2 separate regions of the Homo sapiens genome follow, and region 1 is linked to region 2. The links come from fine-mapping of genetic effects on gene expression. A gene starts in region 2. The other region holds a variant in brackets. All regions are shown on one strand. Distances are from middle to middle.

Region 1 (5,373 bases), 46 kb before region 2:
CTTGACGTCTGTAAAGTGCCCCAAGGTTTTTTAGAGTGGTTGTAACAGTTGGACTGTAAGAAAGCACATGACATACAGAACTATGACATATAAGCTCTGAACAACCACTATCAACAGCACATAATCTAAAGAACTAACAGACTTCTGTTTTGGCTTGAATATATTTTAACTTTCTCTTGTACTTTTCTGAAACTGTAAAATTGTAAAGCGTTCTTCCCTCTCAGGTAGCTCTACCTCCCATGACCCTGGCCCGTCCTGTAGACAGCCCCTGCAGGCCAGGCTAACACCACACTCCATCCAGGCTGAGGCGGCTCTCACAGACCACTGGCCACTCTGTCAACAGAAACATCTGGGCCAGGTCTGTGTGGTATCAGCATGCTTTCCCTGGAGACGACTTGGTCTGCGCTGACAGTAACGACGAACAGTGCTCTGAATGTTGCTGCTCACGTGCTGCCGTCTCCCCTCAAGTACCCGGGAGAAGACAGCAAAGCAGAACCTCCTTATCAGTGGGGTGTGAGGGCAGAGGATAAATGCTTCATGTACCAGGGAAGCAATAAGCAGATGGCCGAGAGGACGGCTGTGTTTCTGTGTTCTTTCTTTCTTTCTTATTTTTCAAACTGTATCATTGAGCTTGATGTTTCTGCATTCTTGATAGAGCAGACTTACTAAAAAAATTATAAATAAACCTAGATTCATTTTAGCATAGATAAGTACTTCGAGAGAGTTCTGTTCACTTACTTACAATAGGCATTTTGGGTACAGAAATAAAGAAGCTATTTTCTATGTCTCTGAAACAAGTAATCTATGGTAAGTGCTATGGGAGCCCTAGAGAGAGTTCAGAGAGTTTTCTGAAAATAGATGAATGGTAGGCTGAGTCTTAAAGGATGAGGAAAGTTAAGAGTGGAAAGACACAGTGGCTCACACCTGTAATCCCAGCACTTTGGGAGGCCGAGGCGGGTGGATCACCTGAGGTCAGGAGTTCAAAACCAGCCTGGCCAACACGGTGAAACTCTGTCTCTACTAAAAATACAAAAAATAGCCAGGCATGGCGACAGACTGTAGTCTCAGCTATTCGGGAGGCTGAGGCAGGAGAATCACTTGAACCTGGGAGGTGGAGGTTGCAGTGAGCCATGATCACGCCATTGCACTCCAGCCTGGGAGACAAGAGCGAAACTCCATCTCAAAAAAAAAAATAGAGTGGAAAGACAGCCAAACAGGTGAGCCACCTGGACCCAGGGACAGCAGCCATCACAGAGGGCAGTCTGCACAGGCTCGGGCTCAAGAGGCAAGGCTCTCGGGCCGGCCACGGAGGGGCCTACACTTCCCTCTGCAGAGGACAAGGCCCCATGGGCTGTGAGGAAAAGGAGTGTGTGTGGATCTGTGTCTCCAGCGCTGTGTGTGAGGGGCTGGCTTTCCCAGGCCTGCTGGCATGCTTCTCATGAATTTACTGTATGGTTTCTGCCATTAAAAGTAAAAGTAATGGCAAAATCGCAATTACCTTTGCACCAACCTAACATGATAGTGGGTTTTATACATGTAAGTGATCTCATTTACAAGGTTAGTGGGGTTTTTTTAATTGGAATTCGGGAAAAACATGGGACTGTGCACTTAAGGAACACTACACATTGGTCATTTATAAGCTGCCCTGTAGAACACAATTACCTTCCCCCTGCTTTTTGGTTTTTCCAGCCAAACGCAATTCCAGACATACCTATCAACTTTGCAGGCTTTGTACCAGCCGCCATACTCTCCAAAAGATGTCCCATCCTTTTGCTTTCCCTAAATTATAAGAAATAATTTCAAATGAATAATTATCTTGAATGCAGTATATACAATTTAGAAAATCTCAAAATAATAAATTCTTACTTTGCATTCTTCTCTTTCTTCAGCATGCATCCAGATGGGTTTATTTTCATCTAGGGAAGAAAACACAGCATACAGGTTGAGCATCCTTAATCCAAAACTCCAAAATCTGAACTGCTCTAAGGGGAATTTCCTTTGAGTGTCAAGTCGGCACTCGAAAAGTTTCAAACTTTGGAGCACTTTGAATAATGGGATATTTAACCTGTACTATAAATGAAGGATAACAGAGCCTGCTAAGTAAACTAGAAATCATGAAGCCTCTGTGGTTTTTTATTTTTTTGAGATGGAGTCTCACTCTGTTGCCCAGGCTGGAGTGCAGTGGTGTGATCCCGCCTCGCTGCAACCTCCAGCTCCTGGGTTCAAGTGACTCTCCTGCCTCAGCCTCTCAAGTAGCTGGGATTATAGGCACCCGCCACCACACCCAGCTAATTTTTTTGTATTTTTAGTAGAGATGGGGTTTCGTCATGTTGGCCAGGCTGGTCACTCCTGACTTCAAGTGATCCACCTGCCTCAGCCTCCCAGTGTTAGGATTACAGGCGTGAGCCACCGCGCCCAGCCTGTTTTCTTTTTTATATGATCCTTGTTAGATACTACTTCTTACAGCATGGACAGATTAGGTTCACACTGGAGGAAAAAGTCTATGGACGACAGAGCTGGACACCAAGCAACAGGTAAGACACAGGGTACAGAATCAATGTCCTGAGACAGGTGAGCAACTGTCAAGACACCCCAGCAAATGCTAGGGCCCTGGAATGTAATTTCTAAAATGCCAGCTGCTCAAGTAGCACAAGGGAGTATTCAGAATGTGAGCACTAAACAAAAACATTAAACAATAGTCTAAGAAAAAGTAGCAAGATGTTGCTAGCAAAAGTAGAAAAGATACAAATCAAGGCCGGGTGCAGTGGCTCACACCTGTAATCCCAGCACTTTGGGGGACTTAGGCAGGAGGATCACCTGAGGTCAGGAGTTCAAGACCAGTCTGGCCAACATGGTGAAAATCTGTCTCTACTACAAATACAAAAATTAGCCGGGCGTGGTGGTGTGTGCCTGTAATCCCAGCTACTCGGGAGGCTGAGGTAGGAGAATCACTTGAATCCAGGAGGCAGAGGTTGCAGTGAGCCAAGATCACATCATTGCACTCCAGCCTGGGCAACAAGAACGAAATTCCACCTCAAAAAAAAAAAAGAAAACAAGCATACGAATCAATATTCGTTTTAAGTCATCTTCTCGGAACACTCACGCAAGTTTCTAGACAACCAACAGACCCATGCTATGGAGGAAAAAGCCACCTTAAAAGTAATGTTTATGAAAATATTTTTATGACTGAAAGGTAC[T/C]CACACTAAAAATGTAAAGAAAATAAGCAGTATACATGATGATATGGACGGTATGGTTTGAAATCTGTAAACCAAAGGCACAGAAGGAAGGAAAGACATTAAAAATGTGAAAAGATGAATTTGGGTGATTCTCCTGTTTCCATTTCTGCATGAATTGGGTAGGTCTCTGCAATGAGGACATGAAGATGGATTTGGGTGATGCTCCTGTCTCCATTTCTGCGTGAACTGTATAGGTCTCTGCAATGAGGACATGTTATGGGCTCTGGGCACTGTAATCCCAGTCTAACTGCTTCTCAGCTACGGGGCCTCACACAAGTCACTTAGTCTGTGGTGTCTTTTTTTTTTTTTGAGACAGAGTCTCACTCTGTTGCCCAGGCTGGAGTGCAGTGGCACGATCTCGGCTCACTGCAAGATCCGCCTCCCGGGTTCACGCCATTCTCCTGCCTTAGCCTCCCGAGTAGCTGGGACTACAGGCGGCCGCCATCACACCCGGCTAAGTTTTTGTATTTTTAGTAGAGACGGGGTTTCACTGTGTTAGCCAGGATGGTCTCGATCGCCTGACCTCGTGATCCACCCACCTCGGCCTCCCAAAGTGCTGGAATTACAGGCGTGAGCCACCACGCCCGGCCTGTGGTATCCTTGCTTTTAAAATGGGGTAATGTTTGACCCGCTGCACAAGACTGCTGTGAAAGTGAAGTGAAATCACACATTTAAACTATTTAGCTTAGTGATGTACAAAGTTAAGTGCTTAATAAACAGTAACTAATACTATTAGTATATTACTATTAGTCAAGTCATTATACAATTAAATTCACTTGAAACGGGAGTATATTTCTTACCATCTACAGAACCAAACTCCCTTTCATGTGCACGAGTGAGAATCTCTTTGTACAGTGTTTCTGCTTGCTTGAACTTTCCTTGTTTCAAATAGCAGGATGCCTTAAAATAAAATAAAATAAAATATTTCATATCTTTCAGATGTAAATAAAGCATACATTTTAATCTCCAGTTAAATGAGAAAGTGTTTGGACTTGGGACGAAAGCACTCCTGGCCCCCTCCCTAGTGCTGTGCAGTCAACACACCAGGTTATTTTTCGTCTTAGCCACGTTGGGGTCATCAGGTCCCAGTTTTGTCTGGTAGATCTCGAGGGCTCTTTGATAATAATATTCTACTTCTTCATACTTGCCCTGGTTCTGGCACAGTAAGGCCAAGTTATTTAACTGCTTGGCAACATCGGGGTGATCCTTCCCCAAAACCTGAAAATAAAAAACAGCATATTAGAGACACTTGTTCTGCTTCCATCCAATCCATTCTCCACCCTACTGTCACATCAGGATCTTCCTCAACATAAGCACGACTGTGCTACACTTTCAGATTTAAATCCTTAACTGGCTCGCTACACCACGTAGTAATAAAATAACCAGAATTTCTCAAATTCTTATTCATGAGGGGAGGGAGGGAACTGTGCTCATCTTCTTTAGCTGTGTTAATTACTGTAGTAATCCTTCATGGTAGTTATATTTTTGTACATTGGTTGTACTATGTACAAATGTACACATTAGGCACATTTTGAAGATAAGGAAATGGGCTTTGTAAAGGCTATGTGAGTTTTACTGCCAGCTTCTGAAGAGCCCACAGCTGTCCCAGTTGCCCAGGATGCTCTTCTCCTAGCCCTCCCTACTAGCTACGACTTATCCTTCAGGGTTCTCCTCAGTTCCCCTCAAAGGAGACTTCCCTATACCACCCCACCTCACCTAGTGAACTCACAGGCACATCACCTGGTTGTTCTTTATAAGAATCACTTCTCTAAACTACCTTGAATATTTTTTATTACAATGTAAGCCCCAAGAGTATAAATTCTTTGTCTCTCTTCTTCACCAATGTAATCTCCGCATCGAAAAAGGGGTCTGGCACAGAGATAGATGAATGAACACTAACCTCCTCCCTCAGTACCTTGAACAAGTGATGAGTTCTCTCCGCTTTGTGCCTTTACACATGTGGTCCTCAGGGAGGTAAGCTGCCTTTCTACTCCCTTCTGCATTCCCTACCTCCCCCTGCCTAGGACACTTTTAACTCAATTATTCAAGATGCAGTTCCAACACCGACCTTCCCTGAGAAACCATCCCCAACACCCCCTGGCTCTGGCCCGCAGAAGCCCACACTTCATATCCTCCC
Region 2 (5,373 bases):
TCAGGTGATACTAATCATACATTTCACTCAACTTTTGATTTTTCTATCCTAGGTTTCTTTTTATACAAGTATGTTTTAAGATAATTTATGGCCCTATACAGAAAGTTACACATTGACTTTTTTCCAACATTGAGAAACATGCCTAAGAATGTATAAATTTTAAAAATGTATAAATTTGGGCCAGGTGCGGTGGCTCACGCCTGTAATCCCAGCACTTTGGGAGGCCGAGGTGGGCGGATCACGAGGTCAGGAGATCAAGACCAACCTGGCTAACATGTTGAAACCCCATCTCTACTAAAAATACAAAAAATTAACCGGGCGTGGTGGCGGGCGCCTGTGGTCCCAGCTACTCAGTAGGTTGAGGCAGGAGAATGGCGTGAACCCGGGAGGCGGAGCTTGCAGTGAGCCGAGATCGCGCCACTACACTCCAGCCCGGGCGACAGAGCGAGACTCCATCTCAAAAAAAAAAAAAATGTGTAAGTTTAAACGACTGCAGTTATTTGCTATGAAATACTGAAGATACTGTGTGCCTCTCCCCAGTGTCATTCCCTCCCCCCTTGCTGGAGATAAACGCTGTCCAGAGTCCTGTGCATGTCTGGATGCTTTTCTCTAAGACAATGCCAAGGCTGCAGTAGGGTTAGAGGTTACCACCTGGGTCCTCCACAGCACTCAGTGCCAGACAGGGCTGCCAGGCTCAACTGCAACATGATGCTGCATTCTTTGATGACTTGGAGAGACACTGGCTCTTTAGAGTGCCTACCCTCCCACACAGAATTCCATACAAGTTGAAATATACTTCATACTTAGTATCATTGTATTCCTACAAATATTTAGGAAACAGAGCAATAGGTCAAATTTCTCACCATAACAGGCTTGCTGACAATCCCTGAAAGAAGCAAGGCCATGTCTGTAATATAACTTCAGGAGGTTCTTCCAGTTTTCTAAAGTGTCTTTCACTAAACTAGTGCAATGTATTCCGAGCTGATTCTGATCAATGGCTTAGTCATGCCGTACCAAAAAAAAAGGCCTTGGGATTTAACTAATGCAAAGAATCAAAGCTCTAACTGCCCTTTTACAGAACACCTGAAATAGTATATCTCAAATTTTTTGTTCTCACATTTTTAAAAAACATCATTTTTGTAAGTATTCCTTTTCAAACGCTTAATATGTAAATTCTTAATTCATTTAAATAATAAAACAGTAACAGGCAGCAACAATTCTAATACAAATATACCTAGAAATGACCTACAAATGTTAAGTTATAAAACCATCCACTCCATCACGCATTAATTTCACTACTTTTACGCTTTATTTTAATTTTCTTAAGGAAAAGGGTACACCCAATTTTACATGGAAAAAGCATTCCAGGACGGAGGCTGCTTCAAGTTTAGTTGGAGCAACGCCAGCCTAGGTGAACAGGGTCGCCTGAAACGTTTCGCATCTGGTTACTGAAAATAAGGGGTCGCCAAGGAGGCAAAGCGGAGCCAGCTCTCGGGAGGGACCCGGCCCCCCGCCGCCCGCGAGAATGACAGGCGCGTCCGCTCAGGGCGGTGCCGGGAGAGGCGGGGGTGGAAGGAAGAGGAGGAATCGGACAAAGCCAGCCCCGCCGGGCCTCCGGCCTCCCCGCCCGCCGCGATCCCGGGGTCAGCCACCTCCCCTGTCGCGGGTTCCCGGGGTCCACAGCTGTCCCCGGGAACGGCCGCCGCCGCCCGCAGCAGGGCCAAGCCGGGGATGCGGGGCCAGGGCGGGGCCCTGGGCAGGGCCGGGGACCGGAACCTGCAGTGGGACGCGGATGGGGAGGACGCGCGGCGCCGGGAGCCGGGGCTGGCAAAAGGGCCGGGGACAAGAACCCGACCTGAACCTGGAAGGGGTCGCGGACCGGCCGGGGCGGTGAACTGGGGCGGGTACCGGGGTGGGAACGGAGAGGGGCCGGGACCCAAACCGGGAAGGAGGCCTGGATGGGGACAGAGTTACGGCCGGGGCGGGTCCGAAGAGGAGCGGGACAGGGACGGGGCGGAGGATGAGGAGGGGGCCGCGGTCCGGGGCGCACGCCGGGGACTCACCGCCTTGCTCCTGAGGGCCGCGCTCTCTCGCGCTGTCAGCACCTGGAGCGCCGCCGGGCGCGCGCGCGGAGCAGCGACTGTGCGCCGAGCCCGCCTCGGCTGTGTGAGGCACGGCGCAGCAGTCACCAGCTAGGGGCGCCGGAGCTACCGCCCCGCAGCATCCTCGGCCACCCACGCGCTGTCCCCTTGGCCGCCGAGCACAGCCCCGCGGCTCCTCGCACCAGCAGCCCAGCCGACCCAGCCAGTCCCGCTCGGCCGCCTGCGCCGCTCCCGCCGCCGAAAATGGCGTCTCAGTGTTGCTCCCCCCGGCGCCCCGCCTCGCCCCGCCCCACAATGCCGCGCGCCGGCATGACGTCATCGCCCCTCGCCCCGCCCGGGGCTGGGGAAACTGAGGCTGGGTGGCTCCCCGCAAGCGCTCGGCGAGCTGGGGACTGGAGGGGCGAGAAAGTTGTTTGGGTATCAGGTGGGCGGTCACAGGGAGGAGGGTGACGGTGCAGGACCCAGCGGGCCTCCCGGTTGTAACGCGGACGGGGGTGGGGCGCTCGGGGCAGGGCGCGGCTCGCGGGGTGGGCGGCCAGGCCCTGGCCTCTCCGACTCCGCAGCCGCGATGACCGAGCGCTTCGGCAGCTTCCCTTCCAGCCGGACTGTGGGCCCTACCAGAATGCGGCCGGGGACGGTGCAGGCCCGGCCGCAGCCGCCACCACTGGGCTCCCGCCCCACCCCACTCCCAGGCCCGCGAGCTTCATGCGCTCGTTTCGGTCCCCCCAAAACCCAGCTAGGAGGCCTTCGGGAGGCCCCGGAATCAGATGATCCCGGCCAGGCCTTTCTCCCTCCTCCAGGAAAACCGACAGCCTTTGGTCGAGACCCTGACCTCTAACCCTGCGCCCTCCCCTTCTCATTATTCCCTCTCCTCGGGGCTTTTGGACCCTCGTATCTGTACGAGGAAACTTTCCAGGCGCTCCCCCTCGACACAAACTGCGCCTCAGACGGGCAAAGGGGAAGGGCCGGGGTGTAGACTGTGAGGGTGGGAGACAACCCCCCTCTGTCCCCACGCAGCCACCGGCGCATCTCCCTGGCTGCAGGGCCTCGACCTCCAGCCCGGCCTGAAGGGCAGCGGAGCGCGCCTGGGTCAAGTCCTGCGGCTTCGCCGGCTCCGCAGGCCTGACTCAGCAGCCAGCCGGGAGGGCATGCTGATTCAATGGGCGAGGCTCCGCTCGCTGCTGCCAGCGGCTTGGGAAAAACCCTCCCAGTGCCTGCAGACGTCCCAAGTGCGGGGCCCGGAGGCATCATTTAACCTGGAGGGGTTCCTGGGCCAGTCCCCCAGCCCCATCTTGTGAACTGCTGTTCCTTTCCGATGTTATCACCCAGCACCAGCAGCCCTTTGTGAACCCTGCAGTTAGGCCCCGCAGTCACCAGAGAAGCAAGTGCTCCTCGGTTTTTCCAGGGAGGTCTGGTTACTTTTATCTCATTTATAAAGACAAAGGGGGAGCTCCTAGGTAACACGGTAGGGTTGGCCCGGGGAGAGGCACTGAGTCAGGGTCAAACAAACTTTCTCCATACCACTTTCAGGTTAGTGATTTCAGCCAGACTGCAGCTTGGATGTCACTAAGTTCAGCCACTGGGCTGGGCACCGCCAAGCATCGACTGCTCATTCTTTCTGTGCCGCTGCGCCCAGTAACTGTCCCCTCTGCTCACCCACAACCCTAGCCAGAAACCTGGGATGCCTGCACCGCTCCCTTACGCCCTACTACAACAGGTGGAAAAGATTCTACTTCCTCAATATTTCTTTGAGTTAGGGTATCTTTGTCACCCTGACTGGAGGGCAGTGGCAATCAGCTCACCGTAACCTCGAACTCCTGGGCTCAAGAGATCCTCTTGCCTCAGCCTCCCAAGTAGCTAGGGACTACAGGTGTGCACCACCACTCCCAGCTAATGTTTTTTAAATTTTTTGCAGAGAGGAGATCTTGCTATGTTGCCCAGACTGATCTCGAACTCCTGGCCACAAGTGATCCTCCCAGCTGGCCTCCCAAAGTGCTGAGATTACAGGTGTGAGCCACCATGCCCGGCCTCTCAGTATTTCTTGAATCCATCTCCACTGCCACCACTTTGTTCTGGCTTTATTACCTTGTTCTTTTATTTCCTCAATAAATATTTGTTGCTCTCCCATGATCCTCATAACAGCCAAGGATGCATAGGTGAACAAGATAGATAAGATCTCTGCTTTCTAAGAGTTTACATTCCAGTGAGGAGAAGTAGGCCATAAACACATAAGGAAATACCGGATCTTGCCGAGATGATGGAACAGGCAGAGATGGAACAAAGATGATGGAACAGGCAGAGTCTAGGTGGTCAGGGGTGAACTCAGAGGCAGGCGGGTGACCTGAGACCCAAATGAGAGGAGGGAGGCAGGCGTTCAAAGCCCCAGGAGAGGCCGGCGAGGTGGCTCACGCCTGTAATCCCAACACTTCAGGAGGCCGAGGCAGGTGGATTGCCTTCAGGAGTTCAAGACCAACCTGGGCAACACAGTGAAACCACATCTCTGCTAAAATACAACAAATTAGCCAGGCGTGGTGGCGCACGTCTGTAGTCCCAGCTACTCGGGAGGCTGAGGCAGGAGAATCGCTTGAACCTGGGAGGCAGAGGTTGCAGTGAGCCAAGATCACACCACTGCACTCAAGCCTGGGCAACAGAGCCACATTCTGTCTCAAAACAAAATAAATAAAAGCCCCAGGAGAGCTCTGAGGGCAGGAGTCCTCAGGCAGGAATGACCCTGGAGTGTTGGGGGAAAGGAGAAAAGGCCAATTCATCCACCAGTGCTGCCACGCATCACTGTCTGCAGCAACTTCAAATTCCTTGGGTTGGTCAACAAGGCCCCCAGGGCCTGGTGCTGCCAACCTCCTGGTCTCCTGTGCTCTGAACACCCTTATCTGTTCCTGAGTTCACCCTGGTCTCTCACATAGCCATGCCCCTGTACATAGTATTCACTGTGCCTAGAATGTTCTCCCTCCCCCATTCCCCCCAGTGCTCCAGGATTCAAATGATCGTCACTTCCTGGGGGAAGCCGCTTCTGACAGCACCTGCCTGGGTCAAGGCCTCCTCTGACCACCCACCTGTCCCTTCCCCAATGTGTAGTATGTGGTCAGCTTACACAGCTGCCTTCTCCTCAGCCTGTAAGCAGAGAACAGGAGGGGCTGGTGTCCTCTTCCCCACAGCCTGCTCAGCACCTGACGCAGCTGCAAGGGCAACCCTCAAGCAAGCATGAGAGGAGGGCTGGGCTGCTGCTTCTCCAGGCTTCCTTTGCACAGAGATG

The links. PIP is the estimated chance that this variant, and not a neighbour inherited with it, causes the effect. A credible set is the group of variants that fine-mapping cannot tell apart.
Region 1: its variant is the best candidate, but not a certain one, in a credible set for the expression of KLC1 in whole blood (TOPMed, PIP 0.61).

The regions. Positions count from the first base shown.
Region 1 is chr14:103,672,095-103,677,467 of GRCh38, reverse strand. It overlaps KLC1 (kinesin light chain 1), which reads right to left. Exons shown (of 17, transcript NM_001394837.1): 8 at 4,281-4,454; 9 at 4,037-4,136; 10 at 1,867-1,916; 11 at 1,712-1,779; 12 at 1-53. Among named protein-coding and RNA genes, the nearest start is that of XRCC3, 41 kb to the left of the region's middle. RefSeq lists an enhancer at 3,149-3,648. The variant T/C (reference allele first, on the strand shown) is at 3,198.
Region 2 is chr14:103,626,185-103,631,557 of GRCh38, reverse strand. It overlaps KLC1 (kinesin light chain 1), which reads right to left and starts at 2,347. Exons shown (of 17, transcript NM_001394837.1): 1 at 2,064-2,347. LOC105370688 (a long non-coding RNA gene) reads left to right here and starts at 2,415. Exons shown (of 3, transcript XR_944248.2): 1 at 2,415-2,526; 2 at 3,633-3,819; 3 at 4,018-4,056. RefSeq lists silencers at 1,600-1,779, 1,820-1,869, 1,960-2,079, 2,130-2,489, 2,580-2,779 and 1 more and an enhancer at 3,220-3,309.